Linked DNA regions of Homo sapiens: region 1 is linked to region 2. Evidence: fine-mapped expression QTL. Tissue or cell type: whole blood. Region 2 holds a variant in brackets; the other region holds the start of a gene. All regions are shown on one strand. Distances are between the middles of the regions.

Evidence for each region.
Region 1: WDR11 starts here. The variant in region 2 is fine-mapped to the expression of WDR11 in whole blood (INTERVAL, PIP above 0.99).

Annotation. Positions count from the first base shown.
Region 1 is chr10:120,849,151-120,854,374 of GRCh38, reverse strand. WDR11 (WD repeat domain 11) reads right to left here and starts at 3,013. Exons shown (of 29, transcript NM_018117.12): 1 at 2,869-3,013; 2 at 1,740-1,851. The coding sequence starts at 2,954. It overlaps WDR11-DT (WDR11 divergent transcript), which reads left to right and starts at 3,196. Exons shown (of 3, transcript NR_033850.1): 1 at 3,196-3,681. RefSeq lists enhancers at 2,529-2,588, 2,283-2,826, 2,599-3,068, 3,229-3,348, 2,827-3,371.
Region 2 is chr10:120,904,063-120,909,556 of GRCh38, reverse strand. It overlaps WDR11 (WD repeat domain 11), which reads right to left. Exons shown (of 29, transcript NM_018117.12): 24 at 5,415-5,494; 25 at 4,746-4,911; 26 at 4,141-4,238; 27 at 3,536-3,681; 28 at 2,702-2,781; 29 at 33-1,001. The coding sequence ends at 844. The region is part of intron 2 of LOC105378519 (a long non-coding RNA gene); the gene reads left to right. Among named protein-coding and RNA genes, the nearest start is that of WDR11, 55 kb to the right of the region's middle. The variant G/A (reference allele first, on the strand shown) is at 3,225.

The sequences.
Region 1 (5,224 bases), 55 kb after region 2:
ATTCATCAGTAACAGAGTATTGATATATGCTACAACGCAGATGAACCATGAAAACATTATCCTAAGTGAAAGAAGTCATGCACAAAAGACCACAAATTATATGATTCAATTTATATAAAATCCCCAGAATGGGCCAGTCTACAGACACAGAAAGTAGGTCAGTGGTTGCCAAAGGATGAGGGAAATGGGGGAAATGGAATATGACTGCTAGTGGATATAGGGTTTCTTTTTGAGGTAAAAAAGTTCATTGTAATTGTGGCTGCATTAACTGTGGATATACTAAAAGCCACAGAATTGTGCATTTTAAGTCAGTACATTTTATGGTATGAGTATCTCAATAAAGCTATTATTTAAAAAAGAAAAAGACTCCAAATCTCTATCTCTAATCCTGACCTATCTCCTAAAGCCCGGATCACTATAATGCAATATATTACAGGCATCTCAGATTTTGCATGTTGAAAACTTAAAAATTCACTGACTTCACAGATGCTTACCTCTGATAACTGGAAACACTGTCATTCAATTACACCAAAAGAAACCTTGGAGTCACTCTATTCTCTTACTCTCCTTTATACTGATCACTATAAAGGCTATCAGGTTTACCTCTTTGCTGCTCTTAAACATGACTTCTCCATGCCCCAGCTTTATTTTAGGCCCTTAGAATTTCCCACCAAAATTACTGCAGAAATCTCCTAAATGATCTTACTGCCTCCAGTCTTGCATTTCTTCAGCAGATCCTCCACTGCTGCCAGAGTTTTTCTAAGACGCGAATATGGTCACATCAATCTCCTACTCAAAAATCCAAATTCCTGCTGGGCGCGGTGACTCACACCTGTAATCCCAGCACTTTGGGAGGCCAAGGCGGGTGGATCACGAGGTCAGGAGCTCGAGACCATCCTGGCTAACATGGTGAAACCCGGTCTCTACTAAAAATACAAAAAATTAGCTGGGCATGGTGGTGGGTGCCTGTAGTCCCAGCTACTCAGGAGGCTGAGGCAGGAGAATGGCGTGAACCCAGGATGTGGAGCTTACAGTGAGCCGAGATCATGCCACTGCACTCCAGCCTGGGCGACAGAGTGAGATTCTGTCTAAAAAAAAAAAAAATCCAAACTCCTTCGTAATCTTACAAAACTTCAGGACAGACAGCTGAATCTCTCTGGCTGCCTCTTATTTCATCACTCCTACAAGTGTCCCATCTTTAGCCATCTTTATGGCACGCTACTTACTTCTGTGTATATTCTTGCTTTTCCCTGCAATGCTCCTTGTCAATTTTTTACTTGGCTAACTACTGTCTACTAGTCTTGAAACTGTAGACTTCTGTGACTCTCCTCACAACCAGGCAATATGCAGCTCCTCTGTTTTCTCACAGCGTGTTACGCAAGTCTCACTTATCACACTATCACGCTGTGAGTCTTCCTTATAAGATGGAGAATTATCTGAGGGCTTTCATCTCCATATCCATAGCATATGGTAAGTGCTCAAAACTAAGGAATGACTGAGTGGTCTTGTAAATGGTAGAACTTTCATCTGCCTTAAAATGATCTAACAACTAGCATTTAATAACTCACCCTGTATTGACATTAAGTCATATATATGAAAATTCTAGGCTACCCCAAATAGGTTGTTATATTTAAAAGCTATTCAACACTTACACGTAAGACTTAATGAGAGCTTAGTGATACACAGTATTAAACTTTAGACTAGACAACATGTTAGCGTCAAAGTGGGATTTTACTTACCTTTACAACATCAGCTTTATGCTTTTCTAAAACTTGAAGAGTTTGGGCAGTAATGGAATCAATCACTACCACAAGTGAATGACATCCATAAGCAATTAAACCTTGCCAGCCCCTAGCAAAACAGTAATGTTAAAGTTTAAGTACAGAACAAAGCAGGACGACTTCTTTCTTGCCAAGCCTAAATAAATGATAAGTCTAATTCATATGTACCACCATTAATAAAATCATTTAAACCCAAAGGCCAGTATTTATCATTATCCCACTTAAATAAAAGATCTGGCTAAGCTTAAAATGCTTGTTGAAATTCACTTTTCATTCGGATAAAAAAAGTTCTAAAAGATATGAAAATAGAGACCCGAGGACATAAAAAGGAACTTGTGCCCTCTGACTGTTCTTGTAGGCATACGTCTTTCGCTTATCCGATTTCTAATCCTTAGTATCCACAATGTGCCTGGGGATACTGCGACTAATCCTAGTCCTTCCAACTAAATAAAACGACAAACACTGCACAAGACGTTTCAGTCCTCCTAACAACATCCCACAGCCACAGAATTTTGCTTTACATTTGTCTAATGAGTAGTTTTCAGAGCTGCAGTAGTAATTTATAGTGAAAGGAGAGAGTAATAAAGACGACCTGTTGAAGGCAGGAATGTTCTACACAGGAGGAGCCCGAAAAGAGGTGAAAAGGACAGGTGAAAGAACAGGCGCCTAGCACAGGGTCTGGCACATTGTTGAAAGACAACAGGAATACAAGACAACGAAAAAGAAAAGACAGGATGGGAAAGAGAAAGTGCACAGGGAATTAATGGTGGAGAGAGAGAAGCCTGGAAGCTGGAGGAGAGGAAAAGAGAGAGGAATGGAACGGCAAAAGGGCGAGGTGCAGAGAAAACAGCAGAGAAATACGCGAGAAAGAGGGGAAATGTATTTGCATGGGGGAATTTCCCACACGGGGCTATTATCACTTTTGTAACAACAAAAATCCACCAACTGAAAGCAAGCTCATTGCGTGAGGGCGGCTCCCTGCCTTAGCGAGGCCAAACTAACCAGGGGGTGAAACCTCTTGTCCTTCCCCCTTCCCCCTCACACATTCCTGGCCGATCCTGGCGACCTGGAAGCTCGGCGTCCTCACCAGTCCACCGCCGCCTTGTTGTGGGCGTTGAGGGCCCCCGTGAGGGTGCGCGCCGACACCTTGAAGTTCACTGTGTAGGGCAACATCCCGGCGGCCAGCCCAGGACCTGGGCGCTGACCCGCAACCAGGAAGCGGCGGACACTGTGCTTCCGTTCCAAACAGAGTCCGGGTGGCCCCCTCGGCGCCGCTGTCAGGTTCCTCTAGATTCAAGTTCTACAGGCTCCGGGTTCCACCGCTCCCGGATTCCATCGCCCCCAGGTTCCGTTGCCTTCAGTTTCCTAGGATCCTAGGTTCCGCACTCTCCAGAGTTCCGCCGCTTAGGCGGTTGTGCTAATCTGCGTCAGCTGGGGCTGTATTTGGAAGAAGAGGCGCTGCCTCCAGTCAAGTCTGTTTTTTTCAGGTGGGGACTGTAGGCCTTTGTGCCCTGCTGGAAATCGTGAAAAGCAAGAGAGAAGAGTCCCAGTTATTCTTGCTGCCTTTGATAAGTGAATTTAGGGCAACTACTAGTGCCAGTAGGCATGGGGGATCTACCGATGAAGAAGACACAAAGTCTCCGCTCTCGTGGAGTTTACAGAGAATAATGAATGAGATTAATTAAGAAATGAATGAGATTAATTGAATGAAATTGCCAGACTGAATGAAGTGAATGGCCTGAATATAAACAATTTCCAAATACAGATAACACTGCATATCTGGTGTTTGCAATACTCCCTTCGCACTTGAGGAAGAAGCACTATGTCTGGGGCCAAGTGTGACCCTTTGTCTGTTGCTGGGTACCTTTCATTTCGCACTTTCTCCTCTGCTGCTCTCCAGGTCAGACCCAGTCCTTCCCTCCTTTGTGTTCAGTGTTGGGTTTATACGCTTTAACTATAGCACTTAATGCAATGATTTCTTTTCAGCAATGATATTTGCAGATGTGTGTTTCTCTCCCCAATACATTGTTAGTTTCATGCGCGTCCGTGTGAAGAGACCACCAAACAGGCTTTATGTGAGCAATAAAGCTGTTTATTTCACATGGGTGCAGGTGGGCTAAGTCCGAAAAGAGTCAGCGAAGGGAGATAGGGGTGGGGCTGTTTTATAGGATTTGGGAAGGTAATGGAAAATTAGTCAAAGGGGGTTGTTCTCTGGTGGGCAGGGGTGGATCTCACAAAGTACATTCTCAAGGGTGGGGAGAATTACAAAGAACCTTCTTAAGGGTGGGGGAGATTACAAAGTACATTGATCAGTTAGGGTGGGGCAGGAACAAATCACAGTGGTTGAATGTCATCAGTTAAGGCTGTTTGTACTTCTTTTGTGGATCTTCAGTTACTTTAGGCCATCTGGATGTATACATGCAAGTCACGGGATGCGATGGCCTGGCCTGGGCTCAGAGGCGTGACATTCCTGCCTTCTTATATTAATAAGACAAAACAAAATAGTGTTGAAGTGTTGAGGCGGCGAAAATTTTTGGGGGGTGGTATGGAGAGAGAATGGGTGATGTTTCTCAGGGCTGCTTCAAGTGGGATTAGGGGTGGCGTGGGAACCTACAGTGGGAGAGATTAAGCTGAAGGGAGGTCTTGTGGTAAGGGGTGATATTGTGGGGATGTAAGAAGAAACATTTGTCGTATAGAATGATTGGTGACGGCCTGGATACGGTTTTGGATGAATTGAGAAACTAAATGGAATAAGAGAAGGAGAAAAACAGGTATAAAAGGTCTAAGAATTGGGAGGACATAGGACATCTGATTAGAGAGTGCCTAAGGAGATTCAGCATAGTCCTGCCAGCAAAGATTATTTATTTACTTCAAGAGTTTAGAGTGGCAGTTTGGGGATAGCACCAGGAGATATCAGCTGTGATGGCTTGGAGAAACAGTGTAAACCGGCAGTGTAAACAAGAGCAGGGCATGTATGAGTAGTTGAGAATGGTGAATAGGAGTATGACTACAAAAGATAGGGATGACAAGTTTTTTGGGGCACAGTCTAAGTTGGTCTGGTGTCAAATGAGACTGGGGCCTAATAAAAAGGAGCGTCTATACAGGAGCTTAAATGGGATGTACCTTGTAGCATTCTGAGGACAGGCCTGAATTCTGAGAAGCGAAAGTGGTAAAAGTATTGTCCAGTCCTTTTTAAGTTGGTGGCTGAGCTTGGTGAGCTGTCTTTTTAAAAGACCTTTAGTCCGTTCTACTTTTCTTGAAGACGGAGGCCTGTAAGGGATATAAAGGTTTCACTGACACCTACTAAGAGCCTGAAAAACTGCTTGGCTGATTTGACTAATAAAGGCTGGTCTGTTATCAGACTGTATAGAGGTGGAAGGCTAAACTGAGGAATTATGTCTGACAGAAGGAAAGAAATGACTGTGGTGGCCTTCTCAGACGCT
Region 2 (5,494 bases):
TCATGCACAGCAATGCAGAGAACACAAAGGCCTGGATGGAATTTTTAATTTATTTATCATGTTTGTAAGTTACAGACATTTATGTTTTCAGCAACAGTTTATAATAGTTACATCTCATACTTCAACTATTAGAACAGAGAGAACATTAAAGTACAAAGAAAGACTTCAAAAATGAGGTTACTGTGATGTATCATAAAAGGAGTTAAAATTCAAAATATCAAAGACCTCACCTATCGGACTAAACATAAATCTTAAAACCTCCTATGGTCCTCTGAGCCTAAAATTACAAAACTTAGCAACTGCTTAAACCAAGGAATTAACGGTTCTGTGTTTTCAAGGTAAGAAAACAAAAAATGCTTTGGTAAACTACCTTTAATACTAGTTTAAATGTTTCTGCCTTGTTTGTATCTCTCTTGAAAGACTGTATATAAGTACAGGCACAGCATATATTTGAGAAAACATCTCACAAATTTCATTTACTATAGGTTTCTCAATAATCTTTACATTTAATCAATGAGAAAAGTGATTCAGTCTCTTGAATTTTAAGTTAAAAAAATTAAAAAGTATTTCCAGGGACTCTTAAAGCTCTCTCCCAAAGTATAAAATATTATGTACTTTCAAAATCTTAAGCATTCACGTTCTTTCTGAGACCAACGCAGGATACAAACTTACTCTCAACATAGATGCTTATGTGCTTTTGGGCACACATAGTCTTAGAACAGTGGTCAAACAGCTCACAGGACCCTGTACTCCTCTTCATCCTGGACTGTGACGGTGGCCACAGCCAGACCAGCCCCCTCCCATCTGCCTTCCAGGTCAGATTCCCTGGCATTTATTAAGCTGTCACTCTTCAATGGGTTCTTCCTTGGGGGACTCAAGCTCATTCAATAAGTCTTTGCCAGCTGCTCCGGCTTTTGAAGCAAAGAGAACTGCTCCCTGCTTAAAACCGAGGTTCTTCAAACTCCGGGCATAATCTGCATATATAGCAGTGATGAGTTTCTGTAAACCATAGTTAAGGAAAAGAAGAGTAAAAAGGGCTGTGATGAGACTCTTCACAGGCTCCCAGAAGCAGGAAGGGTGAGTCGCGTCTGCTCTGCTGGCTGCTCGGAAGGGACCTGGTGTCCACAGCGGGCAGCACAGGATGAACACAGGAGACTTTTCGCGGGCAGAGGGTGATTCCCGGCCATAGTAGGCCATGTCTCAGTCTGTACCATCATTACCTTTCGTACCAGCTGAGTCCAAAGCTTCTCCTTCCAGAAGACCCAACCAACATCCTCCCATAACCTACACTCAACTGAAGATTGGAAGATGAATGATAAGAGAGGAGAAACTTAACCTGCATATCCTCATTCCATTTGAAAGTCTGAGAGGCTGGCAGTTTGGGGGCAGATATTTATTTCTGAATGTTCCCTATATCTGGTTGTTGGGTTTTTAGAAAGCCCTGTCCTATTGGTTTTTTTTTATTTATTTTTATTTTTTTAAACAGCCTATTGGGTACTCTGTGCTGATGCTTTGATCCTCAAAATGCATACACTGAACCAGTCACCTTCCCAGTGACTAGGTACATGATCTTGAGTAGGCTCAGCCTTCAGTTTAATTTTAAAAAACTTTCAGTGCAGGGCTGGGTGGCTCATGCCTGTAATCTCAGCACTTTGGGAGGCCAAGGTGAGAGGACTGCTTGAACTAGGAGTTCAAGACCAGCCTGGGCAACATAGTGAGACCCGGGTTACTACCAAAAAAAAAAAAAAGCCAGGCACAATGGTGTGGACCTATGGTCCCAGCTACTGGGGAGGATGAGGTGGGAGGACTGCTTGAGCCCAGGAAGTCAAGGCTGTAGTGAGCCATGATCGTGCCACTCACTCCAGTCTGGGCAGAAGAGTGAGACCTTACCTCAAAAAAAGGAAAAAAAAAATTTTTAGTTTAGTTTTAATTCTCTGTTAAAAAAAAAAAAAAATTATAAACACACACAGAGAAAGAGGGAGAAAGAGAGAGAGAACCAAGTACCTGCCATGTAGAAATGAGAGCAAATGTAAGAATTTGAAGCAAAGTGCAGTGAGCAGCAGCAGGACCATGCAAGCACTGGCCCAGTTTCATTCTTTTCTGGTCCTGGGAGTTGCATTCTCAAGTTCATTCTTTTCAAAGAAACCAATGTTGCTCAAGTGCCATTTAGAAGAAATAAAATGTTCTGGCTGATGGGTGGATTATAGTGGCTGGCCTGAGCAACACCTCTCTTTAAGTGCTGTATTTTGTCCCATATCATATTGTCACTAGAGGTGATCGTGAGACTTTTTTAGTTATTCCAGTATATTTTTTCTAGATAAATATATAAAATTTATTCCATGGAATGTCTGGTCTTGAAAAAGTACTATTTCAAAGTACCAGGTCCTTCTACCTGTTTCCCAAATCATTCCTTCATCTTCTTTTTAAGTTCAGACAAGACTTGGGGGCCCTGTCCTCTATAGTCCTTCCTGCCTCCCTCCATCCTAGTCAAAGCTGACACCCATGGTGCAGCCACCTTCTTATCTGATTCTTTGTCCTCTAATTTCTCCCTCTTTCCTGGCTTTGGTGAATCAGAAAATCAGAACATGGATCTTTCACAATATAATATAGTTCCTGTCCAGGCAGCACAACTAAGGGAAATTCCAAAACCCATGCATGTCACTTTCTTCCTCGTCACTACAAACAACCTTGCAAAGGATATCTGTGTCCTCAGTGACTTCAAATGCTCCATACTTGAGGCAAGCTTCCACAAATAAGGCTGCTCTATCAAAGTATCTCATGCTGCTCAACAGAACAAAACAAGAGTTATGCTTTGTGATTTACATCACTGGTGGGCAGCAGCATCGAAGGGTATAAAGACATTTACACATTTTCCCTGGAAACCTGCATACTGCATTAAGATACAAGCACTTTTCTAAGCCCTAGTTTGTTGAAAAAAGGAGGGAAGAATACTCACATCTCCAAACACAAGCTTTTTAAAATTAATACTTTAAAAAATTGTGAAATAGTTTAAATACACAAAAATCTACAGAGATATGACAAGTGCCCATGTACCCCTGTCCAGAGTTGACAAGTAATCTTTTGTCATATTTCCGTAATCTACCTCCCTTAGTTTTGAATAAATGAAATGCTCCACAATTAGTGATGGTTGTTCCTCTTCCAGATTTTCAGACGGGATGTCTCCACCTCACCATGCCTTCTGTCGCCTCTCCCCCTGCTCTCTG[G/A]GCCTCCTCTCAGTTGCTCTAGTCAAAGCTGAATGGACCCCAATTCTCTGAAGACTTTTAAATTCCCTTTTACTAGGTGCCTGTTAAGTCTGATCAGCATATTAGTAGGAAACTAGCATAGCTCCTAGACCGAATGAAGATGTAATGAATACGGACAGTTCCATTCTCCTTTGGGTTTTTTGACAAACCTGAAATGTATACTTCTCCTTTCACTTTACACATCGAGTACCATGACCTGCTAGAACCGCGAGAGAACATGAAGTGACTGCTCACGGGCAGGCCTGAGCAGCCCATGTGAACTCTCGGTTTACCTGTGAAGCGTCTCTGCCACGCTAAAAAAGCAGCCCAGAGAGAGGAGAACCAGGAGAGCCTTTGATTTCTGATTGACTTGTGGAGAACAAAGGTGGTCAACCCACCGCCTTAAAACATCGGCACACTCCTCAGGATTCAAACGGACCTGAGAAAGACGCCTGTGTTAACAACAAAAACATCCTGCACTCTATAAAGAAAAAATAATAATTCAGTTAAAGTGAGATCTGTTTCTATGAAATACAGGCTATGCTCTGCTTGACTAGCACACTGCCCTGAAGCTGCTGCATACTCTGAATAATGATAACGGTCTGTGCCTACGGGACCCAGGGCCTGGCTATACCTCTGGACTGTAGTTTCGGCTCAGACTCTGGGAGAAAGAGGAGGCAGCTGCTTTTACTTAATTGCTACCAATGCAAGATCCATTTTTAAATAAGTAATGCAATTTACACTCATAAAGAATAGGAAAAGGATAAAGGTTCCAAGACAGTATTTGCAAAGCAGCTTTGCAGGCCAAAAAATGTTTCTAAGTCATAAGTCCAAAGTTCAGGACTGAGCTTTCTATCCCGAATGTTGAGGGCACCTATTGAAACTTGGAACCACCTACTTTTGCCAGCCATGCAGCCCGATTCCACTCGCCGTATGTCTGCAGGTAGCGGCAGGCGTCTGCAGCCTTATCTATCAGGCAGAGCAACTGAACGCCCTCTGAAAGACAAAAGCGCATCCCCTTAAGTGACACTGCAGCTCCTTCTTTGAGAAGTCATTAAAAAGTTAAATCCCCATTTGACCTTATCTAGTCGTGCCCATTTTATACCTACTGAAGACATTCTTGATTTAAATTCTGAAACATAATATTAAGAGTTTTACTGTTATTACTCAAGTAACCAGGGTAGGAAGCACAATACAGTCTGGAGAATAAGTAGGGAGAGCATAGTTCTCTCACAGGTTTTATTGTTCTGATTTGCCTAGGATTGTTGGATTTATGCCTATTATCTCAGCAATTATTAACAGTGCCCCCTTTCACTCTGAAAAGTGTAAACAATTAATTCTGGTTTAGACAATTATATTCATCTGATTTATAGGTAGCAATAATTTTTCTATTTTTCTTCAGCATATGTAAAAGAGAAAGAAATGTCCCTACTAATCAGATACTTTGCTGGGAACAAGGTCTCATTTTTCAGAGAGATGACAAACATATCAAGTGTGCCTTACCTGCCAATTTGCCATTGGCAATCATATTCGTTGCCACCAACTTAATGGTGCTCTGAGAGGGGCCTGACGAGGTGACAGTAGTGACTAAACAGGCTTTCAGTGAATCACAGTAATAATGCTGGTTATCTGCACTTGTTTCCAACAGCAACTGCACAGCTCTGTCTGTCTAGTAAGAGAAACGGTTTTTCTAATTATGAGAACATTTTCCTCCAACATAACTTTTTAAAATTCATAAGGTAGAAAACTAAAGGAAAACACTCATTTTCAAAAAATGCAATTGAATATTTTGTTTACAAATACAAACATTAAACAGAGGTGCTACACTACTTTTTTGAGACAAACATAAAGCCAGAGGCTGGTGTATCTAGGTGCTCGAGTAATTGCCTATTTTAGCTTTGTACCAGTCAATTCAGACACAAAAACAAAACAAAACAAATAGCTGGGCTCCACTGGGCATTATGGAAGTCTAAATTACAAGCTGGTTAACCATATGTTTTTTCTCATGAGGTTTATTGGTATTATTTTGAAAGAAAGCCTAAACTGTCTACAGGGAAGGAGGTACATACAAGGGGAAAATATTATGAAATATATACATACAGATATATTGCTCTGAAATACGAATTAACTAGCAATTTAATGAAGCATGTAGAGTTATAAAAACTGACATACTTGACCCAAGAGCAGTAGCTGGTCTGTACATTTCCTTGTATGATCATAAGTTGACCGTTTCACTTCCTGCAGATTAACCC